Regions from separate parts of the Homo sapiens genome. Here regions 1, 2, 4 and 5 are each reported to be linked to region 3. The links are microRNA targets in miRTarBase. Many come from high-throughput screens and were not tested one by one. Region 3 holds a microRNA gene; each other region holds the end of a gene's coding sequence. Distances are between the middles of the regions.

Region 1 (6,934 bases), not on the chromosome of region 3:
TGGATAAAGCAAACTACTATAGCTCAACAATACACAAACCAGGACTAAAAATAGTCAATCTATGTATATAGCTAGCTACCATACAATAGATATTGAATATGCTGAGTCTTTACAAAGGCATTGACTATTTTAGACGAGCAGGTTCCAGAAATACACTTGTTTGTTTCCAATGAGAACTAACTGTAGTGCCATTTCAGTTGAAGACTATGCACTCCTCAGTGTCAGACGTGAGGATAAGCAAACTAGGGGAAGGCAGAGGAGGGTTAGGAGGGAGACCTGAGCGGACTCTTTGGACAGCTCAGCATTACTTTCTCTGTGCAGATCCAGACCTGGTTCACAAAGTAGAACAAAGTGTATTGAAATTTTTGGCCCTCAAAAAGGGCATTTGTACAAAGTCCCATACTTACAGCACAGATTGAATGGTAACTGAGTGCCTCTCAAAATGAACTCTTCTATGTTAGAAGAAAACTCAGGGCCAAAGGTTAATGGAAATCAGTGTTTGAATTACTGTATAAAGATAATTTATTCCAAAATAGAAAAAAATGAATTTTAGAGAAGTATTCTCCTGGAAACTAGCAGGGGGTGGGCAGAGAGAGAGAGAGAGAGGGAGAGAGAATCATGCTATGTGTTTTATTACTTAGAAGAAGAAAAGTTTTGTAGACCATTTCCATAAGGCATCTGTCATTCTCCCATACCTGGCACCTTAAGAGAGAGTGCAATGGCTCGATATTACCTTTGAAAAGGCTTCTTTTCCTTTGAGTTGTCTTACAGAAAGGGTGCCCTGGATTGACCATGCCACTCCGGGGTCACACTTCTCCTTTAGATCAAAATGAAAACAACAACAAAATCACAAAAAGAAGAAAAAAAATCAGAAAAGCTACAAAATTGAAGGCCTCAACAGGCACAGACTTCCTATGAGGTCAGAAAATCAGTGAAATAATTAAAATTACAAAGCACCTCTTGCAAAATACACTGTTTTTTGAAAACCACACAAAACGCTTTGTAGTAACCCCTGCTGAGTGCTTAGAGGTAAGTATCCTGAAGGACACATGCTTAGTCCCATGAAGGAAGCTTGATTTTATTATCAAGGCAGCCGAGGGGGTCCCAATGCTTCTTTGTTATTTGCTGTTTTATAATTACAGACAAAATGGAAAGTCAAGAAGTGCGTAGACCTCAATATAAAGAAAATGTTTCTCTAATAACTAGGAACCATGCTGTATTTATGTATTCATAGTTGTATAGCTCCATTTGTAGATTCTTGCAGATGAGTCACTAACACTGACACTTTTTACACAAAATCCCTTTTGCAAGGACATATTAAATTTAATAGGCTAAAGAGAACTTATGCAATATAATGCTTGAAATTTTACACATGATAGCTGTGCAGTGGTAATAAAGAGGCCTTGAAAAATTGTTTTTGTCTATAAATTACTACTGCCCTTTAGAAATAAAAGCTCCCTCACAACCCCTGAGCTACTTCCCTGTGACACACAGTGCCACAAACCTCATGGTGAAAATTCAGTGCCAAACCTAGCTTCAGATGAGTTTTGTACATTTGTTTCTATACAATCAGGAAAAAAAGAGATACAATTTGTATCAACAAAAGGTCATTTCTGGTTATTTGAGGCATTGCTCCTAGCCGCTTTTGGTTCATACCAAAAAGAAGAATGAGAGGAGAATGACAATCGTTTTTAGTAAATCAGAAATACATATGCTGCCTTAAAAAATATTTTCTGTATTGGGAGGAGCTTACACAGTTTCTGAGTACTAAATATGAACATGTTCAAGACGAATTGTAGGTGACAAGATGAATCTTGTGCTTCTCTGTAAATTGTACAGCTAGTGGATAGTGTGGTGCCATTCATGATCTTGGTAGGAAGATGAACTAACTGGCACATAGGCAGTAGCATCATCTGAGATTGTCAAATACCCTGATTTAGACACGAGTCCGATTTAGAAAGTCCAAGAAGTTGAAGGTATGAAATGGTGTTTGTGTGAAATAGCAAGCACTGCAGTGGCAACTGTCACTCTGTGGATCTACCTGATTGATAGAAAATACTTTTACTCTTTTTCAATATGCTGGGGTATACGAAGATCAGAAGATAGGAGATAGAATGTAAAGCTGTGGTTAACTCAAGTGAAACATTGGTTAAGATGCAGTATTGATCAACTTGGACAGAGACAGAAAGCCAGAAAGCAGCATGCAAGCCATTGTCAAACCACCAGAAACAACCCTGACTACAGCCTCACATTCAGAGTGTTTCACAGTAAGAAACATTTATAGGCAGTGTCACACCTTCTCATGAAGAAACAAAAGGCCAAGGCCCGGCCTTCTCAACTTTCATGAAAAAACGATCATAGAAGTTAGCAAGTTCCAGCTCAGGAAATAGTGAGCTGATCATGGTTCGAAATATTGAAATATACAATGGATTCAAAAAGGGAATTCATTTAGTGCAGCTTAAAAAAAACAATAAACACCTCTTCTAGAGGCATTTAGCTATGAAGTTTTCCACCCTGAGCAAGATACAAGTTGCGCAAATGGTGTCGCCCAAACCAAAAGTCCTGCCTTCTAATAACTCATTTAACAATTATTTAACAGCAAGTGCACTCTTTGCATGGATTTAAAGTGAGTAACTGAGCCAGCTATTAGTAAAGATGCAGTATCCCCTTTTGGAAACTTCCTTTTTCCACAAATAAAATCCCCTGGTTTTGTTTCCTAGAGAAATTCTGTTCCACCAATGATTGACCTTATTACCCAAAGGGTGGACAGGAAGAGAAAGTGGATACATGGCTGTGCACTGTCCTCCATTACATTTCATCCAATGATGTTGAATACTGCATAGGTCAGAAGTCCAAAGAGCATCCAATAGTCCCTCCTTGAGTGAAGCTTTTTTATTCACCATTTAATGCCACATGGGTTTGGCCATCTCTCCTGGGATAAGGGAAGTGGATTGTGGTAGTAAGTCCCCTGGTCCTTGTCAAACTCTTCTGAGCTTGTGTAGCACACACATACTATGCTTGGAACTTGAGCTTAACCATCAGTTTCTCTGCAGAAGACTGCAACCTGATCCCTAATTTGCTAAGGTGAAGAGACTTGGAAGGTAAGAACTGTTAATAAATGTTGGCAGGTAAAATGTGCAAAGGAAACAGAGTTGCTTTGCTCTGGTGCCTAAGAAAGCAATGTTCAAATATTGCCATATAATTTCTCTCTCATAACTAGTTAAAACTATGAAATGTGACTTAAAATCATCAAGTCAGATTAGTGACCTATACAGCTATAGACGAAGGACTGTGTAGAGCCTACCCTCTCATTATCACTATATAAAAGGTTATACAGAGATACACACACATCTCAAACCAAATATATATATTCATACATGCAATATAATTGCTAATAATAGCTTTAAAATATAGTTCTAGAAGCTTCAATGTGACCCTATAGTTTCATTAATATAGATTGAGTGATCAGATATCCATGCAATAAAGTATGCATTTACTTTTAAATAGCTTTAAATATTTCTATTAGAAAAAACCTAAAAGGTTAATTCAACATATGATCTGATCCTGATGCTTTTGCTCTCTAAATTGGATATATCATCCATACTTTGTAATATAGAATATGTGACTACGAAAACTCTGGTAGGCTGGGCGCAGTGGCTCACACCTGTAATCCCAGCACTTTAGGAGGCCAAGGTGGGCGGATCACTTGAGGCCAGGAGTTTGAGACCAGCCTGGCCAACACGGTGAAACCACGTCTCTACTAAAAATACAAAAATTAGCTGGGCATGGTGGTGCACGCCTGTAATCCCAGCTACCTGGGAGGCTGAGGCCATAGAATCACTTGAACCCTGGAGGTGGAGGTTGCAGTGAGCAGAGATAGTGCCACTGCACTCCAGCCTGTGTAACAGAGTGAGATTCTGTCTCAAAAAAAAAAAATAAAGAAAGAAAGAAAGAAACGAAAAGAGAAAAAGGAAAACTCTGGTAATGGAATCCTCTGGGATTTCTTACATCTAGACCTCTCCCCCTGGGTTTTGTCCTCCATTACCTGCATGGTGCAGTGCAAAGGGGCATGGGACTTGGATTTAGAGGACTTGGGTGTGTGTCTTGACTTAGTCATTTGCTAGCAGTGTGACCCTGGCTAGCCACTTAATTTCACTGACCTTCACCTTCCTTCTCTATAAAAGAGGATGTTAGTAAGACGTACCTCACAGGGTTGTTAAGCGCTTAAATGATATAAACACTCTAACTTGTAAAGCGCAACACAAATTATTAGTTACTATAATTATTGTATTAGTGTATTATTAGTATTAATATTCATATTTGTATAAAGAAATAAGTACTATGTCATATCAACGTGCAGCCCTAAGCTTAGCAACAATCAAGGCTGCCAGTTGCTGGGCATCTGCTGTGTGGGGATTCTTCTCCATCACTGCAAGGACGATGTTAGAAGGGAAAATATTGCAGAGGTTCTTGTAGGTCTGATACTGGTGTTCTGGGATCATATGCTCCCTGGAATCATTGCACATTCCAACCCAAGGATTCCTCCAAAGCTGCTCCATCTTTTCAGGCACGCTCCGTACCATGACTGGCTCATAACATGGTTGCATGAGGCTGTTACTCAAGGGATAGGAGTGGTAGCCATAGGAGTCAGTTGTACAGGGCAGCGGGTCCCAGCTGGCATGCTGTTCCCGGCACAGGGGAGGTCGTCTTTGCCTCACGGGGTTGCTCTCATAGAGGCGGGAGTCGGAAATGCTATCCATCCGAGTCATCACCAGGGCACGGCCTGGCTGGGGGGTTGCCCCAGGATGGATATTGGGAGGCATGGGGTAGTCTGCAGGACAGCTGGAACGTGTTCCAGTTGATGGGTGCTGGGCATGCAGAGCTAAGTGGGGGACTGACTGTTTGTGGGGGCCTTGCTTAGAATCCTCTGGGCCATAGCTCTGCACTCGTGTTAAGGCTTCATGGTAACCATGAGGAAAAGGCTGAAGTCGGTTCTGGGATGCTGAGCGGTGCAGCTTCAAATTGCCTTCAGGATGGGTATCAGCTACAGCCAAATACACGTTGTTGTAAGAGGAATAGTTGTCATTCCTGGTATGGCTCACACGGCTGTCAGAACAGAGGTTAGGATTCCGGGCATACACCCCCCGGTCTACTTCAGCCATGTAATACTCTCGGTTATGCATGCTGTTGATGTTCAGTTTGGAGAAGTCACCTAACATTGAATAGTAGCCATGGTCCCCCATGGATTCAAACTTTGGGTATTGCTCAGCATAGCTAATAGGGGTCCCATGGCTGTTGGTAACCAAGATGGGAGGATACTGCATGCTGGCCATATGCTCCAAAGAGGCCTTCTGGTGGGGGAAATGGGAGGATCCTGGCACTGGGCTGCTGGCCGAACGGGTGTTGAGTGCACCCACTGCATGGCTTTTGGGGGGTGGGATTGTGGGAACACTTAGGGCAGTCACAAGCGAGGGGACAGAACTAGCCTCAGGCTTACGGGCAATGGACAGCCATTCCTCAGGCTCCATAGCCACAGACCGGATGCTGGGATCTGATTGGCGCTTGGGGGCCACACGTTTGACCTCTGAGGTTATCTCACCTTTGGCACTAGACATCCCTGTGCCACACTTGGCCAGGGTGCCTTCACTCATAGTTTTCACTGTGGACAGTTTGGCACTGATGCGGAGCTCATCAGCCACCGAACGCTGGGGTTGGTTGGCCCGCTCCGGATGGTAGTATTTGCACTTGTGGCCGTAGGTGCATTTTTTGCCTGAAAAATAATGCCTTGGGGTAAGACTCTCTCTCAGTGATGGAACCCTCTGTGCCAAAAACTGTTGTAACAATCTGGTCACTCAGGTTAGGGTTTTACTGTTTGGGGTAAAGGCAGAAAATTAACTGTCCACAAAGATGAGAGACAGACAACACCAAGGAGGCATCATACACTGTGATGGGAGAGAGAAAGTGGAAAGCTATGGAGAAAATTGCAGCATAAAAGCTAAGAGCTGGCTGGATGTGGTGACTCCTGTCTGTAGTCCCAGCAGTTTGGGAGGCTGAGGTGGGTGAATCACTTTAGCCCAGGAGTTCGAGACCAGCTTGGGCAACATTGTGAAACCCCGTCTGTAAAGAAAAATACAAACAAAATTAGCTGGGCATGGTGGTGCACGTCTGCAGTCCCAGCTACTCAGGAGCCTGAGGTGGGAGAATTCTTGAGCCTGGAAGGTCAAGGCTGCAGTGAGCCGTGATCATGCCACTGATCTCCAGCCCAGGTGACAGAGCAAGAGCAAGACCCTGTCTCAAAAAAAAAAAAAAAAAAAAAAAAGCTAAAGCTGAGCAGTTTTAATTTTTCGATAATGTACAACTTTGCCTAGGCATAATCTGCATGCTGAAGCAGCATAGAGTAACAGAAAGCAGCATAGTGCAATGCAAAGAGCACAGGTTTGGAGTCCAGTCAGATCTGAATTTCAATTCCAGCTATGTCCCTTACTAGCTGTGTGACCTTGGTAAGTGACTTTATTTTGTGAGCTTCATTTTCCTCTTCTGTAACCAAAGTTCATCATCATGCCTATATTATAGGGTCATTGTAAAGATTAAATGAGATAATGAATATGAAAATACTGTGTGACTTAAAGATTAATTGAGGACAAAAACCAAAACACCCCACAAAACAAATGATCATCCAAAAAAACAGACATTCAAAGTAGCCTCAGATCAAGCAGCCCATGTCGCAATGTTAGGCGCACAAACGTTGTATCAGAGGGACTGGGGTAAGAGCATGAAAACACTCTAGAAAACTATATTTATTTAAAAAAAAAAAACAAAAACTGGAAAGGGGCCGGGCACGGTGGCTCATGCCTGTAATCTCAGCACTTTCAGAGGCCGAGGTGGGTGGATCACTTGAAGTCAGGAGTTCGAGACCAGCTTGGCCAACATGGTG
Region 2 (6,934 bases), not on the chromosome of region 3:
TCATTGCTTAAAATGTCAAGAGTTACCGAGGAGAAAATACTGTTTTCTAAAAAGCTACAGTCTTTAGATTGCATTAAAGAGAATGCTTTCTTTAAATTAGTCTTGATTAGATAGGTACCTTGCTGTCCTTGCCTTTATGTGTTTGCTGATTATTAACCGGATGATTTTCTGCATGTTTCTTCTTCAGGTACCAATGGAGGAGTTACAGTGGTGGGCCTTGTCTCCAGTCTCCTTGGTGGTACCTTTGTGGGCATTGCATACTTCCTCACACAGCTGATTTTTGTGAATGATTTAGACATTTCTGCCCCGCAGTGGCCAATTATTGCATTTGGTGGTTTAGCTGGATTACTAGGATCAATTGTGGACTCATACTTAGGGGCTACAATGCAGTATACTGGTAAGAACATTCCTTCATTCTTGCAACTTATTGGTATGTTAAAGAAATAGGGAAAAGAAAGAAAAAAATGTTAACAATGAAAACAAATCCAAAGACACAGGGTGTTGAGGGACTAGAAATGATAGGGCAAAGTCTCTTTCACAATTTTGGTTTTCTTATTCTTTTGTATTAAATTAATTGAAAGAGAATTAGTCCCGCGCAGCAATGATTAGAAGCCATGTGGGGAAGATACAATAGTGCAGAGAACAGACGTTTTTGTGTGAGCCATTACCTAATCCCAGAAAAGCAAGACGTTTGGGATCAGATCATTTTAATACAATTCCTTCCATTCATTTTCCTATTCCATTTGAGGAGTAATTGTACAAATCTGACTATACACACGACCTACTTTCTTACTGTGGTATCATGCTTGCTATTCTTGCCCCTGAGTTTTTTGCTTCATTAAGATATATGGTCGATGTCTGGGCACGGTGGCTCACATCTATAATCCCAGCACTTTGGGAGGCCAAGGGGGGCAGATCACTGGAGGTCAGGAGTTCGAGACTAGCCTGGCCAACATGGTGAAACCCCATCTCTACTAAAAATACAAAAATTATCTGGTGTAGTGGCGCCTGCCTATAATCCCAGCTACTTGGGAGGCTGAGGCAGGAGAATTGCATGAACCTGGGAGGCGGAGATTGCAGTGAGCCGAGATCATGCCACTGCACTATAGCCTGGGCAACAGAGCAAGACTCCATCTCAAAAAAAAAGAAAAAAGATATATGGTAGAGTGGTAGATATTTTTCTCAAAATTTTCTGTGCTTTGTTTCTAAGGCTCTCCCATCCTATCAGTGTACTCACATATTCTGTTAGGTGTGTATTTGCTCCACACTCTCATCAACCATGTTTCTCCTTTGATTGACATCAGGAAGAGGTTGGAAGGCTAGAGAAGGGTTCTCTCAGTATAGTCCTCCCAGCACTCTTCATGCCTCAGAAAATCTATGTGCCCTTCCTCCCCCTCTCCATCAGTCAGAATATTTGTTCTCCATTTTGTTAGTCTCATTTAGATTTTAAGGACGAAGCAATCTGATCTTAATTCTCACTAAAGGGTCAATAACTCTACACGCACACACAGACAGTAAACATGTTTTTTAAAGAGTGTAGGTTTTATTCTAAATTGGGTTCTAACTGGGGAAGTTTCTGATTGCATTGAGTGGGTTGAAAAGAAATGCATGCAGTAGGGGAGATTTTGTAAATCTTTGTGTGCCTCCTTTGTGCCAGCCCCATGCTCAACCCTGCGTTTACAGTACTGTGGCCACAGACATGATCCCTACTCCCAAGGACGTCATAGATCAGTCTTGGAGGGGAACCACTGGGAAGGCAGGCCCAACCTGCCAGTTTCATGCCCTCTCTGCTTTTCATGTTCTCTCTTCCACTTCTGAAGCAATTCCAGAGGTATTGACAGAAAATTACTGAGAACCCATTTATTCAAAGAGGCCATTTGTAATCAAGGGTCCCATGTCTCTCATCATATAAATGATCCATTAAAGTCATTTAGCAAGTCACTTAGAACCTTTCAAAGATTGTCTCCTTTGGAGGAAAAAGCCTATTTTGTTCTTTTTTTAAAATCAAGTACATGTACCCTAGAACTTAAAGTATAATAAAAAAAAAAAAAAAGAAAGAAAAGAAAAAAAATGAAGTCATTTGGGTTTTCTATCTCACTTGCTTCTTTTTCCATTCCAGGGTTGGATGAAAGCACTGGCATGGTGGTCAACAGCCCAACAAATAAGGCAAGGCACATAGCAGGGAAACCCATTCTTGATAACAACGCAGTGAATCTGTTTTCTTCTGTTCTTATTGCCCTCTTGCTCCCAACTGCTGCTTGGGGTTTTTGGCCCAGGGGGTGAACTTTATTTCATTTCCACAGGTTGAAACTGGTGAGTCCAGCTAAATTTGCAATTCCAACTTTCATCCTAAGAATAATAACTGTAATGGCAAAGCGGAAATGCCAGTTCCTCCTGTATTCCATTGAGATGGGATTTCACATTTTCCTCTCATCAACTCCCCTGTAATAGCTAGCGTCTTTCTAGTGAAAGAGAAGAATTCCTAGAACTTATGCATTTTTTTCCTGCTGAATGGAAGTCTTGAGCAATGAAGCTATATTGTCCCTACATATTACTATATATTGAACTGAAAGTTCTTACATAATCAATGTCAAGTTTTGTCTTATTTTGTTTTGTTTGTTTAAACCAGTGTAGGAAATAAAAGTGATGATATTTAAAATAGTTCTCAGTTGAAGCAGAGAAATGCCACTGTGCTAGTTGCCCAAATGTTGTATCTATTTTAAATAGTTTAAGCTGATGTGTATGGGAGCCTAAACAAGTGTAGTATCCTGAACTTCTCCCATTAATTGCTATTCACAATTGGGAAAAGTGTGGAGATTGGTTCCTAGTGAGTTTTGTGGCCTACTCCACATTTGTTCTTCCTTCCTCAGGGTTAGTGATGAAAAAAAGTAAATATCTTTTTCATATGTCCATTAGAATGTATGAAAAAAATCATTTTAACTAAAAGCAAAAGAATTTTATCTTATATCTAAAAAATATATAACTTACTATATGTTTCAGTTGCTCTCTGAACAAAAATTATCTTCAATTTAATATGTGGAATGTGTTTTCTAGCTTTCTTTGAATTATGTATGGCAACCTGGTTTAGCACTGGCATCCTGAACAGTTAAGAGTCACTGGGAAATTATTGTATTTCTTTATAAATTTACTGTCATATCAATTGCTGGAAAATGCTATGATTTTTCTATTATTACCTTCTAAGTTGTATTCTCTCTTACACTGTAGCCTCAACTAAGGCAATTCTGCTATGTTTGTTCTTCACTATGATTTACTGTGTGCCAAAGGAGTTTTGACAGGGTACAGAGTATTTTACTAAAAGTATTTTTAAATGTTTCTCATGTGATTTCTGTACCTTCTTCCTCCTGCCCCTTTTGCTTTTTTAAAGAAACTGGGGAAGGATTTATGAATACACCACCACCAGAGTGGATAATGCTTAGAATTCTTTATTGGTGGCCCTACTATGGTGATGATCTAGAACTGACTTACTTCAGGACAGAAGAAAAAACAATCACACCCTTAACCTTTAAGCCAGTTAGATCAGGGGGTTGCAACAATTGGGTTAAACTTTGGGTATACATTGGAAGCACCAGGGCATGTTTGCTTTTTTTGTTTATGTGTTTGTTTTTTGAGACAGAGTCTCACACTGTGGCCCAGGCTGGACTCCAGCACAGTGGCATGATCTCAGCTCCGCCTCCTGGGTTCACGTGATTCTCATGCCTCAGCCTCCCAAGTAGCTGGGATCACAGGCGTGCACCATCACGCCCGGCTAATTTTTGTATTTTCAGTAGAGACAGGGTTTCGCCACGTTGGCTAGGCTGGTCTCGAACTCCTGACCTCAAGTGATCTGCCCATCTCAGCCTCCCAAAGATCTATTACAAGATGTGAGCCACTGTGCCCAGCCACCAGGGCATGTTTTTAAAAAAGTACTGATGTCTGGGTTTCACACTGCAAAATTCTGATTTATCTGATCTAAGGTACAGCCTGGATATTGAGACTTTTTAAAGCTCTGACTGTACATTGAATCATCATGTAAGGAGTTTTTAAAACATTGTTGCCAGGGCCCCTTTCTAGACCAAGTTAGTCAGAATGTTGGACAATGAGGCCCATGCATGGGTATTTTTACAAAGCTCTCTGGGAGATTCTAATGCTTAACCAAATTGAGAAGCACTGAATAAGAATATCCTGGGCCGGGCGCACTGGCTCATGCCTGTAATCCCAGCATTTTGGAAGGCCGAGGCGGGTGGATCACTTGAGGTCAGGAGTTCGAGACCAGCCTGGCCAACATGGTGAAACACCGTCTCTACTAAAAATACAAAAAATTAGGTGTGGTGGTGCGTGCCTGTATTCCCAGCCACTCAGGAGGCTGAGGCAGGAGAATCGCTGGAACCTGGGATGTGGAGGTTGCAGTGAGCCAAGATTGCACCACTGTACTCCAGCCTGGGCAACAGAGGGAGACTCCATCTAGACTCCATCTCAAAAAAAAAAAAAAAAAAAAAAAAAAAAAAAAAAAAAAAGAATATTCTAAGCACTAGAACTACATAAGAATGTCCTAAAGCACTGTATCTAAGCACTTGAAAAGAATGGGACTTTTCGGTTTTAGGGAGATAACTATTAGCAACCACACAATATGTTATCTTTATGGATGAATAACTTCTGGTAATGACACAGTGTCTTACAGCTACATCATTTATAAAATCATGTGTCAGTTTTCACACAGCCTGCACATCGTTCTGACATGCCCTTTTTTTCCCTGGAGATTTATCCTCATGACATACAAGGGGACAAAAATATTTATTGGGACTGTCTTTGAATTTAGTAGAATCACTGTATCATTAACAGTTTGGGGAAGTACTGCTTTGCAGTCCTTTATTTGAAAACTTAGGTCTAGCTGTGTTTTGCATCAAAATTTTTGAGCTATTCAAAAACTAATAGGATCTGTGTAAAATATTTCACTCAAAACTACTAAAAAAAAGTCTGGGATGGCAGCTCATTATCAAATATACTCCTATTTTTGTGGTGATTTATGAACATCCCCACTAAGTATAACTAAAGATCATAAAGAGCCTCAGATCAAGTTTGGTCAGGTTTTGTCACCAAGCTTTGTAAATAAACTGGTTTTCATAGCTTTTTGGAGATGAGAATTGAGGATAAGAAATTGTGTCTCTGTCCTTTTTTTTTTTTTTTGTTAAGTCTTACATGTATTTTACTGTAACATCTTTTGAATTGGATATTTAACTAATTCAACATATTTTTCCTCTTTGCAGAATGGGCAGTTCATGTTAAAATCACTTTTCATGGAAAGAGCTCTATGTAACAGCATAATAAAACTGCCTACCTAGCAGCATAAAGGTGTACTGTTTCTTATCATACTGTTCCATGATAGAAGAGAGCAGATATATGTGGCTTGGGGCAGCTCCTGAAGAAGACTTGCAGGAGTAGCATGTTGAAAACTCATTAAATGGAGCCACCAAGAGACCAAAGAATTGATACAGCAGGTCATTCTATTATTAGCTTTTCTCATTACTTGAGTTATCTGTTTCTCACATATATCTTTCCTGTTTCTAGCTGCTGTACACATAGGATGCTGCCTGCAGAAATAGCAGCCCCGCCCCAATTAGATAAAGGACTAGTATAGAGAAAAAGCATGTGAAATGATGTTTTAAACTTTGCCGCATACCTGTGATATGAACAGCTGCTGCCTGTTAGGCACAGTGGGTATACTAGGGCCCAATCATCTGATCTTCCTGAAGTTTTATGTAATGTTCCCAGTGCTATCACAATGAGAATGATCTATACTAGCCACCAGATCTCAGGTGAATTGTGGTGTGCTTTAAAAATGAAAACACAGCCGGACGAGGTGGCTTATGCCTGTAATCCTAACACTTTGGGAGGCCGAGGCGGGCAGATCACGAGGTCAGGAGTTCAAGACCAGCCCGGCCAACACAGTGAAACCCCATCTCTTAGCCGGGCATGGTGGCGCATGCCTGTAGTCCCAGCTATTCAGGAGGCTGAGGCGTGAGAATCACTTGAACCCAGGAGGCAGAGGTTTCAGTAAGCAGAGAGCGTGCCACCGCACTCCAGCCTGGGTGACAGAGCAAGACTCCATCTTGAAAAAAAAAGGAAAACACAATTATGTGGCTTAATTATTTAATCTCCTTTATGGAGTATCTGTTTTTATAACTCCAAGTGGTTCTTGATATTTTAAAAATACTTAAGCATTCAATATGTATTCATTGAATTAAGTTGTTTGACTCTAATCATTGTTTCTTTTAAGAATGACTGGAAGGTGATAATCAGCACCATATTCCTGGAGGAAAATACAAAATGAAAAACCAGTTTGGCTACCTGAATTTCTGAGAACTGGAATGTTTCCAGCATTTTTCAATCATGCAAAACAATATTAATGCTTTTGAAACTAATGAGCCAGGAAATTATTGAAGAAGTGAAGGAGTGGCAGGGCGAGGCTTGAAATTATTTTCTCTGACAAGACTTCACTCTCCATTTATCATAACTGCCCTCTTCAAAAAAAAAATTTTTTTTTGTAGATCTAATCGTGAATCTAGACAAGATTTATTTTTATTTATTTTTTATTTTTTTGAGACAGGGTCTTACCCTATTGCCCAGGCTGGAGTGCGGTGGCACAGTCATAGCTTACTGCAGCTTCAACTTCCTCAGCTCAAGTCATCCTCCCGCCTCAGCCCCCAAGTAGCTGGGACTACAGACTTGCACTACTACACCCGGCTACTTTTTTTTTTTATTTTAATTTTTTGCAGAGATGAATCCAGACTATGTCCTATGTTGTCCATAATGGGTTTGAACTCCTGAGCGCAAGTGATCTTCTCACCTCAGCCTTCCAAAGTGTGAGATTACAGGTGCAAGCCACCACACCCAGCCAAAAATTTATTTTATAAATATGGCAACTCTTTTTTTAAGT
Region 3 (6,934 bases):
TGTTTTAATGAGCGCCTGGGCACAGGCGGTCTGATGCCTAAAATGGCGTCAGCCCCAAATGAGGACAGGACAGGGGTTTTATAGTCCTCTGTAAACAGGAAATGTCCCAGACTGACCTGACTGCTACGTAGTACCCGGACGGCCTCCTTCTCCATCTTCAGAGGTAGGTGTCTTCCGGCCAGGGTAGGTGTCTTCCGGCCGGGGTAGGTGTCTTCCGGCCGGCTGTCGTCCTGCTTCCGCTGTCTTGCTGACCCACGCTGCTGATTACTGTAAGTGGCCTTGCGCCTTGGGACTGGGCCTGAAAGGGGAGGAGTTTCTCATCTCTTCAAGCTTTCAGGCCCCGGGGACAATCTTTCAGTGAGGAACTAGTAAAACTCCTTTTCCTTTCCAGTTATGGTAAATCTTTCCCTCTTCTCAGCACTCTGCTTCAACTCTCTCCCATTCATTTCCCGCAAGCCCCTCCCCTCTCTGGGAAAAAGTAGGGCACTTTCCCTCGTGGGCCTTTTATAAACAACAAGAGTGACTTCCGCTTCTATGGCGTAGGTGTGGGGATAGTCATCTAATATCCATTCTATTCTCAGATTTCTCCAGATTTCCTTCTAATTCAGTATTCAGTCCAGATTCACGCATTACATTTGGTTGTTACCTCTCTTACATCTTTGTAGTATACAATAATAATTGCATTTTATATACATATGTAGGTGTTCAAACACCACACACACACAAACACAATTTACTTTTGGAAGAGTTCAGGCTAATAGTCTAGTAGAAGTCCCACGGCATTCTGTCAGTCTGGATTTGTCATATGGTTTCCCCGTAGTGTCATTTAACTTGGTTTCTTGGTTTCCATATAATTTGGAAGATAGGTCTGGAGCAGCACTGCCCGACAGATCTTGCTGTGAGGATGGCTGTTCTTCGTTGGTGCTACCCAATACAGTAGCCACCAGCCATATGTGAGAGGGCTAGGATGATAGAGGAAAAGAAATTCTAACTTGTTTAACTTAAATTATTCTAAATTTAAATCTAAACAGTCACATGTGGCTAATGGCTACCATATTGGGCAGTGCAGGATGGGATGCTTTATTAGATCCAGGATAGACATTTTGGCAAGGATAGATGATGTCGTGGACTTACTGCTTTCCTTTGCTGGAGGGCATCTCATTCATTCTCTGTCTCCCTTTCTCTCTCTCTTTCTCTCCCTCTGCCTCTCTCTCTCCCTGTTTCTTATTGTGAACTCATGAATGCTTTTTGAAGCTAGTTTTTGAATTCTTTCACATAGTTTGATTTAAATTAGTGTTTGGCACAACAAATTGTCACCAGTTCACCTTGACCAAACCTAAACTTGGTATTAACTGGTTTGTTTTTTGTTTGTTTGTTGTTTCTGTAAGGAATGGTATTTAGAAACCAGGATCAGGGAACTAAATTTGCTTGTTGCTACTGTGTCAATGTTTCTAAACCCTTTCAGTAGAAACCCTAAGGGAAATTACGTTTATAATCTTTGGTTCACACTATATTTTTCAATTCAAATTTAGTATTACAGAAAAATTAAGTGGGAGAAAATTAATATTATGAGTGTTCTTTTTCTTGGTTTCTTTTTTTTTATATTTGTATCTCCTTTCCCTTAGAAAAAAAATTATGGTGGCTAATATTATCAACCTATCTCTTTAGTTTTCTACAATATTGTCTCAAAATTAGAATATCACTACTAACAAACCCATTAATAAATTTAAGGTATGCTTTCAGACCTTTTCTTTTTTTTTTGCCCTTAGACTTATACATCCCATTAAAATGGGTCAAAGAACTATTTTCAAAAATTATTTGAAATAATTATTTTTTTCTCTGTGGTTTATCAAATTGATATATAGTCGATTTCATTTATTGCTGTTTATATTCAATTTTATGTAAAAATGGTTTTTCTCTTATTTCTTATGATTACATTTTCTATTCTTTATAAATGTAAATAAAAAGCATTTCACTTGTATTGTAATTTTTACAATGTACTACAATACAATTATATCACAATTTTTCACAACTTTTTCTGTAGAAAATGTATTCTAGTATTAATAAGTTGAATTGCCGGGCGCAGTGGCTCAGGCCCGTAATCCCAGCACTTTGGGAGGCTGAGGCAGGCGGATTACGAGGTCAGGAGATCGAGACCATCCTGGCTAACACGGTGAAACCCCATCTCTACTAAAAATACAAAAAATTAGCCGGGCTTGGTGGTGGGCACCTGTAATCCCAGCTACTTGGGAGGCTGAGGCAGGAGAATGGCGTGAACCCAGGAGGCAGAGCTTGCAGTGAGCCGAGATTGTGCCACTGCACTCCAGCCTGGGCGACAGAGCTAGACTCCGTCTAAAACAAACAAACAAACAAACAAACAAACAAACAAACAAATAATAAGTTGAATTATTGACAGACCTTAACAGTAAAACCCATTTTTTAACTTTGAGATTGCATGTATTCTGTGAAATTTGAGGCTAATGTACCTCCCCCACCAAAAAAAATGGAAGTACCTCTTCTCCAAAATATGTGTCATGGGCTTTCATGCTGTCCTGTGCACTTGTGACAACTGTATTGATTATTTCGTTGTGGGGTTTGTTTTTTTCCTTTAATTTAAACAAACATTGATGGAAGCATTCCTCTTTGCCAAGTATTTTAGTTCTTGTTAATTACTGATATAGCCTGTAAACTGCATGGGGACAGGGGTCCTGTCTGTCACATCCATCCTGTCATCCCCACTCATAGTACCTCTGGCCCAGCATAGGTGCTCCATAAATGAATATTGAATCATGGATACATGATTAAACAATTCTCTGGGCTCCACTCTCCATGTGGAAATGGGAGAATCATTCAATCAAATCCATGTTACATTCTAACAAAATTCTGATGCATGGCCACCTGGAAAAAAATTGGGCCTCCCTGCACAGTTCTTTTACATTTTAATGATCTCTGTGTATGCCACTTAAACACAAAATAGCCCTCAGGTTTTCAAAGAGGATTAAATTGTGTTTATGGGAGCCTCTCATTAAGGAAAAAGTGATCAGAATACTTGGCTCTTGGAGCCTGGCGGTCCTTTGCGAGACATACCACATGAATAGACTACCACTCTTTCTATTAAGGACAATCCATCACATTTTCCAGTTGGGATGGATGATAATGCCACATTTAGTTTTCTGTATTTTTAAGCATCATCTCTTCTTAACGGGATGTGTAATGTGATTCAAACTGATGTGATGAGGCAGACCATTAACGAAATGTCTTTCAGTCTTTGCTTGATTAATAAATATTTCCTCTGCATTTTATTATGGGCAGCTTGCAGAGGGAGCCAAAGTTTATTGCTTTTTTGTTTTTAATCAGTGAAGTAACATCAGCTATTATGCATAATCAGTTCCAGCTTGTACATTTGTAATGTTTTGATTTAGAATAGTAAAAAGGAAAGAGGACAGTGAAGGCTGCCACGTTATGAGAGAAAATTCTGGTAAATGCATGACAGTTCAGGTGTCTCTCATTTTTGCTTTTTAAATGCTTTTCTACTTTGCCCCCAGCTCCCAGACATATATCTAAAAAGAATATCTTTCTTACACCTACCAATTTTTACCAGTCTTCTACAAACAGTAGTTCTCAAAGTGTGGTTCCCAACCAGCAACATCAGCCAGTGTAGCCTGAGAAATTGTTAAAAATGCAAATTTTCAGGCCCTACATAGTCCCACTGACTTGGCAACTCTGGAAGTTGGGTCCAGCTGTCTGTTTTTACTGGTCCTGTTGGTGATTCTGATGCAAACTCAAGTTGGAAAACTATTGTTCTAGAAAGAGTGAAATAACATCCTCATCTTAATGATTAGATTCAAGTAAATGAGTAGACATTCAAATTCCCTTACATTTCTAAATTGTCATTTGGCTTTTTTTTCCTATGTGCTATGGGTGTTTAGTTTAATTTGAGAATCAATATGACTCATGCATGACACTGGAAAGGTATTTTTATTTTCAAGGTACAGAGAGTAAAGTCTAATGGAGAAAAACACATTTTACTCATTAAAAAAAAATGAATCATGTCATCGGCATAAAGACGTCATTCTTCAAACTGGCGTTAAATAAATCTCTGTAACAAAGTTAATGTGGCTTTCTAAATTGCTGCCATCATCATGATGTTACAGCCAGTTCTTCCAGAGTAGAATTATCTGGCCTCTTGGTTTTTTTTTTTTTTTTTTGTAATTAAGCCTTTTATCCTATTATTTTGCATTTAACTGTTATTAACACATATCATCAAAGATGGATAGGACAGAGAAAGGAGATGTCACCTTTGGATTATATCTGAAAGGGATGTTATAAAAATAAAAAAGAAACCAAACACCAAATCCAATCCTTAGAGGTTCAGATAAGAAAGCAATGCTCAGGGAAGTTAAATGACCTGTAAAATTCAGATATTTTGTGTTTTAGTTCAGTATGTTTTCCACTGTTTGTTATTAGTAATTCTTGTCCCTACTTAGAAAAAGATTTTAGAGTTATCAACTCAGAAATACCTTTTTTTTGGCATGAAGTCATGAGTGAATTTGACCTTAGCATTTTTCTTACTGTCCCTCTTCTCACTAACAGACATGGACAATTGAAAGCTACCTAAAGGATTTGTAGCAGTATTTACTTCCTCAAATGTTGCCAAGCAGAATAGCAAATTCATTCCAGGACATTTTTTAATGTGTCAAAATCATCCTAGTTCTTAAAAGTATCGGAAATGAACAATGGTCCATCATACAGTTAAAAGCATTGGTTCAGAGCCTAGTGTTTTTTTTTTTTAATTTATGTTAATCACTTAAAATAGGTAATTGACTCTCAAATTAATCCCTGGAAAATTAAAGGAACATCTGGTGAAGTATATTATTTTTGGGCTTTTTATCTAAAAGTGGTTACCAAGTGGGTTCTTGCTGGGCTAGAAAAATTCTAACCTCCACTTCCATTTTTTTCTCCTTTTTAAAGTTAGCCAAACAATTTTCATGCCACATAGAAGTTTAATAGCTCCAACTACAATGACACATTGGCAATCTGAAGGATGCACTTGCTTAGCAGTGACAGAAACTTTCTCACTATATCCTTGCCCTAGTAATGGCTTCAGAGAGGTGGAGCATAGTGATGGTAGAATATCAAAATTTGCAATTCTAAAATACTCAGAAGACACTCAGTTACATCTTTAATTTGAAGTAATAGGAATTCTTGAAAAGCAATTTTAAAATAATATTAGATCTCAGATGCACTTTGGTTGATTACCTGAGCCACCTCCCCCACCCCTTTGCTAAGATGCTCCCACGTGCTTTAGGGCAGTGCAGGGGGTTTGTAGAAGGACCAGCAGCATCAGTAACACCTGGAAGTTTTTTGGAAATACAGACTCGTGGGCCCCACCCTATACCTACTGATTTCTGGGCTCCACCCAGAAATCTCGTTTAATAAACTCTCCAAGTAACTGTGGTGCTCACTCAAGTTTGAGAACTGCTGCTCTTTAGGGGGTTGATTATGTCTGTTTTATTCTCTCTGCCGGTGATTATTGGCTTATAAAATATACTTAATGCAATTCTAGCTGTTGTGACCTAAAGAGATTTCTTCTGTGAGGGTGCTGGCGATGCTTTTTTGCTAGTTAGAGGAAGGAAAAGTAAGAGGTTGACGCTATTTTTGCCTTTGGGCACAGGCATGTAAAAATGTGATAATGTCGTGGCTGGGAAGGTCCCATGCTGATGAATGTAGAGTCAGAATACGGAAAGAATCTGACTTAACCAAATCTGAAATCATCCTGCCTCGGGACTTTACTTCATTTTGTGAAATTTAAAAACAAACAAAAAACCTTTTACTGCTTGAAGTGTTTTGAGTTCCGTTTTTTTTTTGTTTGTTTGTTTGTTTCTAGTAGCCAATATCCCCTCAGTGGTACACTTAAACACGCAAGGTCATTTATGGCATTTTGCAAGAAAATCTTATGGTGAATTTCAGTGTTACTTATAGCATGGAGGCTGAGGGTAAGAAGCTCACCTGTTTTTATATCACTTCTGTTTTAAAAACTTTTTCAAAATGTTAGAGGAGTATAATTTGGAGAAATTATCTAAAGTTATGTTTAATTACGTCTCTCCTCCATGCTAATTGTGTATAAATAGTAGTTGTCCTTCCGTTAACATTTTGAAGAAGGGATATCAATATAATAATCAATTTAGTTGTTCAACTGGTATTTAATTTGCTTTCTTTCTAGCCCCAAGGGAGCATATCATTACGGGGTAGGGAAATGTAAATTAATCCAAAGCTAAAATATCTTAAGAGTTATCACCCCTTTGTATGAAATTCCCTACTTATTCCTCTGAAGAGTTTTTTTTTTTTTTTTTTTTTTGCCTATTATTCTGCATGTCCAAATAGCATTTAAATACTCAATTTCTGGGAAGTTGCTTTATAAAATAATTTTGAAATATTTTATAGAGATGTAAATTATTTGTATATATTTACATATATACATATACTGTGTAATTTATATTTTTGACATTATAAAATATTTTCTGAACTTTTTAAATTTATTTATTTATTTTGAGACGGAGTCTCGTTCTTTTACCCAGGCTGGAGTGCAGTGGCACAATCTCGGCTCACTGTAACCTCCGCCCCGGGTTCAAGCGTTTCTCGAGCCTCAGCCTCCCTGGTAGCTAGGACTACATGCTTGCACCGCCACCATGCCAGGTAAATTTTTGTATTTTTAGTAGAGACAGGGTTTTACCATGTTGGCCAGGCTGGTCGCAAACTCCTGATGTCAAGTGATCTGCCTGCCTTGGCCTCCCAAAGTGCTGGGATTACAAGCGTGAGCCACCGCACCTGGCCATTTTTTGAACTTTTTTTTTTTTTTGAGACGGAGTCTTGCTCTGTGGCCCAGGCTGGAGTGCAGTGGCGCAATCTCGGCTCACTGCAACCTCCACTTTCC
Region 4 (3,000 bases), 160 Mb from region 3:
TACATATAATAGCTTTTAACTGAGTTCATGGACAAGAATCATGTATGGGTTTGTGAGTAAATGCATTTACTGGGCACATAATGGATTCTTGTAAATGAGTGCTTCATTCTTCATCTCAATCTTTCTCTCCTTTTCTTTTTTTTTCTTTTCTAGGACAGAAGGGTATAGAAAAGTCCCCTACCATTATTATGAACAAGGAAGAGATGAGTGTGATGAATATTTTCTTCATGAACATGCCCCATATGGGGGTCATAGGTTTATCACTGAAAAGAAAGTGTTTGCTAAATGGGCCAAGAAGCACAGGATAATATTTACACATCCAAACTGGACATTGTCTTGATAATGGTTTTCCTGATCTTGCCGCATCACTTAATGTGATCCCCATACTGCAACTGTGATGCTGATGATGCTAATGGAGATGATGGTAATGATAAAGACAACAACAATGATTATCAAGTTCCTGTACACTCTCAGATGTGGATGGTGACTCTGCTAGTAATTTAAACTTGGCATTTCATGGAGGATGGTTGTGCTCATGATGTTCTTTCTGGAGGTTCAACACTACGTACCGCACTTTATAATTTAACTGGAATTGAGATGAAGGCCAGTGACATGACAACTGTGACCTAAGAAATGGGAAGATTATCTTTCAAGATAGCTGCCTAGAATTGTTCAACAGTGAGTAACTTCCAGAAGCCAAAAGAGTTTGGCTTCATGAGGCAAGGTGATTGACTCAATGGCTTGTTGAATCTCAGCAGTTCCGCCATCTTGAAGAATGATTGATTGTCAAACACTGACCCAAGAACTGCTATCAGGGTGCAAGTATCTTACTACTTAGCCTAAGGATGGGAAAATATCTCTTCCTAATATACCATCTTTCTACAGTATTTCCTACAGCTAAAGCCTCAGGCCATTGCCTAATTAACAATGAAGATTTCATGGACATCCTACACTTCAGGATTACTTGACTATCTCAAACACATAAATCAAAATGGGCCAAGTAGCAAATCTTGATGAATTTCCACTCTTACCATCCATTCTTACTACCAACAGTATAACTGAACATGTGATTAGAATGATCTATATTAATGTTTAGTTATTTTTGGTTGAGTGCTAAATATTTCAGAAGGCTACTTAACATGTAAGATACCAACTTCAACACTGTAATAACATATACTGTGAAAACATTCCTAAAAAGTAACCAAAGGGTTTGCTAACTCTGCTTCAACATCCAACAACACAAAACTATATGATTTTTAAAATCATGAAATAGAGACAGCAAAGCATATTTTTACATCAATTTGTATCCTATCATACTTCATAATATATATTTGTATATTCAAATTTCTATTTTATAGGCCCAAGGTGTGTTTCTCCAAACATTACATTCTCATTGCCAAGTGCCAGCTGTTACACATGGAGAGGAAATGATTCCTTATATTAAACCTGACCAGAGCTTTTTGCCTTCTAGGGATTTATTTTTCCCATAGTGTATCAGTTGTTATGCCACAATAACAACAATAATAATGTTCTTAATGTCCAAAGTGCTTTGTCATTTAGAGTCCTTTAACATCTGTTATACCATGTGATGCCCTTGAACACCCCATTGGGCTATTGTCTGTGTATTCTGCTCTCTTTAGCAGATGATCTGTAATTTGGTCATTGTTCTGTTATATTCCAGATTGCTCTACTTGCTAATATTTGTATAGAATAGAATTTATGTAAACTAGTAACCAGTTGATCTCTGTGCCAAATACATTATATCAGGATTACACAAAAAGTATCACAAAGGATGGTCTTGGCCATATGCTAGGGCCCCTGTGAAAATAAGTAGTTTTGAGAAGTTTTTCTATATACGTATATATACACGTGTGGTTCTATTTAGGTGGGGAAAAAATGAAAAAGCAGGGACAACAGGAGGAAATGAAGGCAGAGAAATATAGTTTCCTTTCCTAGGATTGAGACAATTCTATTTTTCATATACTCGTTGCTCATTAAATAGTAAAGGGTTGATTTGCTGCAAGAGTAGCTGAGAATTCAAAAACATCCTTGCAGAATGATTCAAAAGACAAAAGCCAGGCTCAACTTATAGAATGTTTTGGAAACTGGAAGTAATGATACATTTCACTTCAGAAGCACTTGTAGGTCTTTACTAGTGCTAAGTATTATGGTGAGCTATCATTAAAGTGTGCCATCTTGGATAAAGGCCTTTTGCCTACTCTCTTCTGCAATTTTGACACCTCAATATTCACACCCATAAACATTACTAAGCCCCAGTTCTATCGTTGGAAGGAGTTGTTATTCTTTTGTTGTTCCCTTATGCAATTTTTAATTCTATGAATGTTAAGTTTTTTTGAGCTAATGATAGATAGAAATGCCCACTCAAAGAAAAATAAACAGAGACAAATGTTAAAATTGCCATACAGACTGTTTTTCCCCCTGTTGTTTCACTTTAAAATAAAAAGAAATCCTTGATTAATCAGAATGGCTTGGGACATGAACTTAATTTATTTAGTTTTCTAATAAATGAAGGGCCAACTCTTATTTGTTCTAGCCCCTACTGATGAGAAACATTTGAAAACTTGCTTGCTCTCCTGCCTCGTTGTAGCTTTCTCTGATGAAGACTTCTGCAGTATATTGTATCCCTCACTCTATAGCAGAAGGTGTGTGTGGAATATGTAGACTCCAGTGTTTTCTTAGGAGGGGTGGGAAAGGGCTTTCTTTCCTCTCCTCTCCTCTCGTCTCCTCTTTCTTTCCTTTCTTTTTGCAACTAAACTGCTACTCTACACTTTTTATTGTTGTTTTCTTTGTCTTTTTCTTTCTACAAACAGGAAACAAAAAAAAAAAAAAACAAGTTTTTCTCAATTTGGAGACTCAATTGAATAATTTCCAGTATAATCAGCATTTTGATAGAATCTCACAACTTATTTTTCTCTGCTTTTATTTCCTGTTTTTCTTTGTTCCATCTTTCTAATTCTAGTGAAAATGCAAAGTCTAATT
Region 5 (6,280 bases), not on the chromosome of region 3:
ATATGTATATTTTTATTTTTAGACAGTCTCATCCCGTTGCCCAGGCTGGAGTGCAGTGGCACGATCTCAGCTCACTGCAGCCTCCACCCCAAGAATCTCAAGTGATTCTCCTGCCTCAGCCTCCACAGTAGCTGGAATTACATGTGTGCACCACCATGGCCAGGTAATTTTTGTATTTTTAGTAGAGACAGGGTTTCGCCATATTGGCCAGGCTGGTCTCGAACTCCTGGCCTCAAGTGATCTGCCCACCTTGGCCTCCCAAAATCGTGGGATACAGTCATGAGCCACCGCGTCTGGGCCAAAATATATTTATTTTTAAGCTTTGGTATAAGTTTCTATACCCAGATATTCGGGGAAGCCTGAAGACTACCAATGTTTTGTTTTTATTATCTGAAACTCTGATTCAGAATTCATGAAATATATGTAAAAATTATATTTAAGATGAGAATTCCCCAAGACAACATTTTTATTGAGACCATTTTAGTCTCTTAAATCCTGGACTATATAAGCAATAAAAATGAAAACAAAACAAAACAAAGCAAGTTCATGTGTTCTCTAGATGATTCTAAATAAGTAGTTATTAACCCATCATTTTTCCATTTAACATTTTAACACATTGACCTCAAGGAGTTGCAATAAAAGGAATGGGTACATTATACAAAGCCATTAAATTATAAATGAATGGTATTAATGACAAATTTTCCCGGACCCAGAGGGAAACTCAGGGAAAATATAAAATTACCTTCAAAGACAACAAAATGAAAAATAAATGTGACATATGGACCTTAGGAAAAAATGGAAATCAAGTGCACATGAGATAAAAAGATAGGGCCAGGCATGGTGACTCATGCCTGTAATCCCAACACTTTGGGAGGCCAAGGTGGGCAGAGCACCTGAGCTTAAAACTTTCAGACCAGCCTGAGCAACATGGCAAAAACCTGTCTCTACCAAAAATATTATACACAAAATTAAACGGGAGTGTTGGCATGCACCTGCAGTCCCAGTTACTCAGGAGGCTGAGTAACTGGAGGATCACTTGAGCCTGGGAGGAGGTTGCAGTGTGCCCAGATTTTGCCACTGCACTCCAACCTGGGTGAAAGAGTTTAAGACTCCGTCTTAAATAAATAAATAAAAATTTAAAAAATAATAAAAAGAGATAAGGAGATAGGTATGAGATTTTTACTTGGTTTATTTATTTCAGTGTGTACAGTTGCACTATTTTTTTTTTTTTTATGATTGTAGTTCTTTTTCAAAGTTATTTCCCTCAGGAATTTCCTTAAATATGTATGTGAATGGAAGCATATAGCTTCAGAATGAATAATGCTTTTAATAAAATGAAGACTGAGGAAACTTGGAGAAATGTACCAAATCCATGATTCCCTGGACTTTGAGATTTTATATACTACTAATAAATTTTGTCCTTAAAAAGATTGAGGCTGGGCATGGTGGCTCAGGCCTGTAATTACAACACTTTGGGAAGGATCACTTGAGCCCAGGAGTTGGAGACCAGTCTGGACAACATAGTGAGACCCCAGTTTCTACAAAAAAAAAAAAAGAAAAAAATTAGCTGGGCCTGGTGGTGCTTGCTTGCAGTCCTAGCCACTCAGAATGCTAAAGCAAGAGGATCGCTTGAGTCCAGGAGTTTGAGGCTGCAGTGAACTATGATTGCACCACTTCACTCTAGCCTGAGTGACAGTGAGACTCTCTAAAAAAAAATTTAAAAACAAACAAACAAAAAGAAACAGTAGAAAGCATATAGAATCATGGTAAGAGATAGCATTTATAAAAAAATCAAAGAAATATAGCTTCATGAAAAACTCCCTACATTGCCCTTTTAATTTTTCTGTGAGGAGATAGCATTGAGAAAATACATGACACTCTGGCCAAATAGCACTCTCTGAGCTAAATATTTAAAATATTAACTACTTAGTAAACCAAATCAGTGTCAGTTACAAATCAAGCAAATTGTGCCTCCTTTTATGAGGATAAATGTAAAAGCTCACCTGATTAATCTCACAACTACTAGTGGTACTGCCATTTGGTACATTTTTAAGATTACCTCCTGAGCATCCAGTTTTCATTATTATGCAAATTAGCTAAAACAAAGCTCAAAATAACTCCAGTTACCTTCCCAAATAGCAGAATAGAAATCAAAAGGATGGAGATTAATCCCATCAATCTTGAGACAAGAAACCGGAAAACACCAAAATAGGAAATTTCATAAATGAGTTTTTTTCATAGATGAAACCTGACTGAAATTTGCTGGATATGTATATGCCTCCTATCTATGAAAGAACACTTAAGATCGGTGTCCTATAGTTAGCTCTGATCATGGACACTAACTAGTATGTGCCTGTTTCAGTGAAGATACTGTGTTTTGTTATACCATGATGTTTCATTCAAGGAAAATTAAAGTCCCAGGATGCTTTACGAAAACAAACTTCCTGTTAGCAATGCAGTAAGTACTCTTGGCTATGCTGGTACCTAATGATTTACCCAACTTAGGTAAAGAAGTTACCCAGCTAAAGTATGTCTAGGTCTTGTCAGCGCAAGTAGTTGACAACCAAGTCCTTACTGTCCACTAGACCTACGTCTTGATTCCAGAGAGAAAGAAGATTCTCCAAGACTGGGGAATGACATTCCGGGAGTGCCAGTACCACCTCTGCCTCCATATTGCCAGGAACAGACTGAAGATGGCCTTCTCTCAGGGTTGAGACCAGGAAGGGCCATCCTGGGATGCATGGCACATGCCAGCTCTTGGGGACCAGAGTCCATTCCCATCATGCAGAGGCGGCATCAGCTACGGAAAAGAATCTTCAAAGTGGAGGGACAAGCCTGGCATCCCTGTACAAGTTCCTCTGGATTCCTCATAGTTTCCTCCTTGCAGTACGCACAAAGGCACCCAGTAAATGAACGTTAGACCCTGGAACACTTCATTCTTCATAGAGGAGAGGGACATGCCTAAGTTAGTGAAGCAAATATGCGGTAAGTTCCCCGATGGTTCTGACTTGCCTGTTCAGCACAGGCTGTGCAGTCCCTTCTCTTCATTTTAAATCATTCATGAGGCAAGAACAATCTAGGTTAATCCAAATTAACATGGCCCAACATTGTTCCCTTCCTGGCTGAGCCAATTACTCCCACACGTACTACATTTTCTGCTGCATATACAACTTCAAACTACAGCTCAAGTTTTTTTCTTCAGTATGGTAAAATTCAATGTCATGAACCATGGCTAGGTTAAAATTCTGATTTAAACATTTTGGTGACTATATTTCTAACACTTTTTAGTTGCTTCAACACCTAATGGAGTTATAAAAAAGAAAAATAAATATATATAGCTCAGATTTTAATTCTCCTACTCTGCAACTCCAAATAAATTCAGAAAAATGTCTCAGTTTCATTTATTCAAAAAATGGCAATTTGTAGTAATAAATGCTAATCTGGGAGGCTGATTTGATTGTTCTAATTACCAAAAAGCTTAGCATTTTTTTTATTAGAAGAAGGGGAAGTGGGGAAGACAGTGAATATATAAAATATTACTTCCACCAAGCATATTTTTCTGCAATAAATGCATGGCATTTAATCAGTAACTATATAAATGTCCTCCATGGTTCACTGAATCTTTTACCACTCCATCACCATCACCGGCCCCCAAGCTATTTTGTATATGCGAGGACACGCGGGTAATTACCTGGACATTCCCCTTCTTTTTCCTTATGTAAAACAGTTGCCTGGTGGTTACTGTGTTTACAGATTTCTTGTATGCTGTGCTTTCAAGCATTAAGAATTCAAATTTATCTCACTATAGAAACAAGAACCCAAAGTGCCAAAAAATGATCATAAATACCAGTTGAACCCAACGGGTATAATACTTACATAATCCTCACTTTCACCACTTTTTCTTTCCCAATGAGGTAAGAGACAGACTATAGGCTACTCCCAAAATACTCAAAGATTTTTTTCCCTTTTTTATTTAACCATGTGTAATGTAACCCGTAAGAATGGAACCAGGTTCGTCTGAATCCATTGTGTCATTAATGTCCCTTTGAGAATCAATTCCATTACACTGGCCTTCACACATTCCACAGGACATTTCCTATGTCGGAGTTTTCTAAACTATGAAATTGTTATTCATTACTCTGTGAGTTTTGGAGAATCAAGACATGGAAGAGACATCCCATCAGTCTGTGCATACCTATGCATCGTGACATTAAATTGTCACCGGGTATGTACCCAAACCATTAAATGGGACCTTGCCTCAGAGATCATAAAGGCTACACCCTTTTGTAAGTAAAGCAAGGAAGGTCTGGGAAGGTTGGAAGTGACTTAAAACCCATCCAAGTCACTAGTGGCAAAATCAGGACCGAAATCCGGTCACCATAAAGGCCGGCTCCATGCTTGCTTCCGCATCACTGCTGTCTCATAGCACAATTCTCAGGTGGCCTTTCCTGGCTCTACCATGAATATGATAAAAATAAAAATAGGGGATGGGATAGAACAGAATAACCATTAGTGGTGCCACAATTTACAAACACAGGTTTCTATAAGATCCTGTCATTCATTTTTTCCCCAGCCTTCAAGATCAAATCTATTTATTGTCTTTTAACGTGTTTTATTCAAAATCTTTCTTCTTCTTAATTAGTTACATTTTCAGAGGGTGCATATGCATAGATGCAGTAAGTTTTCAGTTTAACTTCTTCTGAGATAGTTTACTGACATTGCCCTAGCTATTTTTTTCAACAAATAATGTTGGCATTTTTTTTTTTTTAAATAGAGGTGGGGTCTCACTATCTTACTCAGGCTGGTCCTCAACTCTTGGGCTCAAGCCATCCACCTGCCTCGGCCTCCAAAAGTGCTGGGATTACAGGCGTGATCCACCGTCCCTGGTCTATTTTTTTACTTCTATCCAAATATATTCAGAAAAATGGCCAATACAGTGCTCTGTTCTCTGATAAAGTAGTTATTGAAGGGGACTAGAAAAGTAAAACAAACAGAACAAAAAACCCAATAGTCTTTATTACTTCTTTTTAATTGTTTAACTTTATTACTGTTGCACCATTTATACAATTACATATAATTTCAATGCATCCATTGTACATTTTTTTGTTTTTTTTTTGTTTTTTTTTTCCATTTTCCAATGAGTGGTGTGTTGGTGTCTGTGACACAGAATGGAAGAGAAACTGGAACTGCAATGAACGCAGACTTTTTTTTTTTTTTTTTTTCATTTCCACTGACCAATAAACAGAACTACAGGTGCACCCAACCACGGACATGCATTAACTCGTCATGAGAAATCTAGGTAGGCTAAGTAGGATGAGAGAATGTTTGTCACTCCCAAAAATATCTGGAGAGGAAGAATGGAGGATTGGCATTGAGATCCATGTGGACAAGCTAAGTGGGCTCTGTCTGAAAGCTGGCATTCATCCACAACATTAAAAAAATATCAAAATAAGAAAGGCTGTAAATTAAAAAGAAAACACAGAAAATACTGCTCTCATAAAGATCTGATTGCCTTGGCACAGGCCCTGTGGGCAGAATCAAACGCATCACTCCCAACTCCCATTGCAGAAGAAAAGCTATTCAACTCTCAGCGGTGGAGGAGTGCATGTGGCGGCAGTTTCAGGTACAAACGATGTACTGCACTTTCAGACGCGGATCTTGGAAATCCAGGACTTCTTGGTAAAGTTGACTGAAGGTATATTAGATATTTCCCCACAAAAATACTATTTGGATTCTCCCACCCCCTCCCTCCCTTGATGGGACAACATCCTGTATTTTTCCTTGGGCAATACATATCATTACTTCCAATTTGAAACAAGTTAGTATAGGAGAGAGAGAGAGGAGAGATAGGAGAGGAGAGAGAGAGAGGAGATAGAGAGAGAGATAGAGAGAGAGAGAGAGAGAGAGAGAGGAGATTGTTTTAAGTGGTATTGTTTTTCCTATAGGCTGTCCTTGTCACTCTTTCACGGTTACGGTTTGGTCGGAATTAGCTGCCGGGGCCTCCACCGGCTTGGGCTCTTCTGCAGAGGCTGCGGGGCCCTGGGCCTTGGGTGTGGAACTAGGCGCTTCCGTGGCTGCGGGGGTCTCCTTGGAAGAGGGGGCAGCCTCCGAGCTGCCGGGTTTTGAGTCTGAAGCTGGGGCCCCGTCACTTTTGGTCTCCTGGGCGGCAGGAGCTGCGGGCGCCTCAGTCTTTTTGGGTTCCCCTTCCTCCTTGCTGGGCTCCTCCCCGGCGGCAGGGGCCGCGCTCTCGGCCGGGGCCGCGGCGGCCTCAGCAGCTTTG

The links. The annotated mature microRNA hsa-miR-3123 reads CAGAGAAUUGUUUAAUC and lies in region 3 at 2,800-2,816, opposite strand. An mRNA with a match to its seed (bases 2 to 7 or 8) in the 3' UTR can be bound and repressed. Matches are read on the target gene's strand: a 7mer-m8 pairs with bases 2 to 8, a 7mer-A1 pairs with bases 2 to 7 and ends in A, and an 8mer does both.
Region 1: the mRNA of ZC3H12B is a reported target of hsa-miR-3123. Seed matches in the 3' UTR shown: 7mer-A1 at 2,718-2,724, 7mer-m8 at 611-617 and 7mer-A1 at 551-557.
Region 2: miRTarBase lists TMEM19 as a target of hsa-miR-3123. Seed matches in the 3' UTR shown: 7mer-m8 at 3,207-3,213.
Region 4: the mRNA of ST6GALNAC3 is a reported target of hsa-miR-3123. The part of its 3' UTR that is shown has no 7-base or 8-base seed match.
Region 5: the mRNA of BASP1 is a reported target of hsa-miR-3123. Seed matches in the 3' UTR shown: 7mer-m8 at 5,317-5,323.

Annotation. Positions count from the first base shown.
Region 1 is chrX:65,500,625-65,507,558 of GRCh38, reverse strand. It overlaps ZC3H12B (zinc finger CCCH-type containing 12B), which reads right to left. Exons shown (of 10, transcript NM_001010888.4): 10 at 1-5,770. The coding sequence ends at 4,350. Among named protein-coding and RNA genes, the nearest start is that of LAS1L, 31 kb to the left of the region's middle. RefSeq lists enhancers at 4,246-4,746, 4,747-5,247.
Region 2 is chr12:71,698,713-71,705,646 of GRCh38, forward strand. It overlaps TMEM19 (transmembrane protein 19), which reads left to right. Exons shown (of 6, transcript NM_018279.4): 5 at 188-397; 6 at 2,120-6,335. The coding sequence ends at 2,283. Among named protein-coding and RNA genes, the nearest start is that of TMEM19, 16 kb to the left of the region's middle.
Region 3 is chr1:241,128,202-241,135,135 of GRCh38, reverse strand. It overlaps MIR3123 (microRNA 3123), which reads right to left and starts at 2,864; the gene lies at 2,790-2,864. All of the region lies in intron 2 of RGS7 (regulator of G protein signaling 7), which reads left to right.
Region 4 is chr1:76,628,467-76,631,466 of GRCh38, forward strand. It overlaps ST6GALNAC3 (ST6 N-acetylgalactosaminide alpha-2,6-sialyltransferase 3), which reads left to right. Exons shown (of 5, transcript NM_152996.4): 5 at 154-3,000. The coding sequence ends at 340. Among named protein-coding and RNA genes, the nearest start is that of LINC02567, 150 kb to the right of the region's middle.
Region 5 is chr5:17,275,576-17,281,855 of GRCh38, reverse strand. It overlaps BASP1 (brain abundant membrane attached signal protein 1), which reads right to left. Exons shown (of 2, transcript NM_006317.5): 2 at 5,022-6,280. The coding sequence ends at 5,956. Among named protein-coding and RNA genes, the nearest start is that of BASP1, 61 kb to the right of the region's middle. RefSeq lists an enhancer at 5,722-6,222.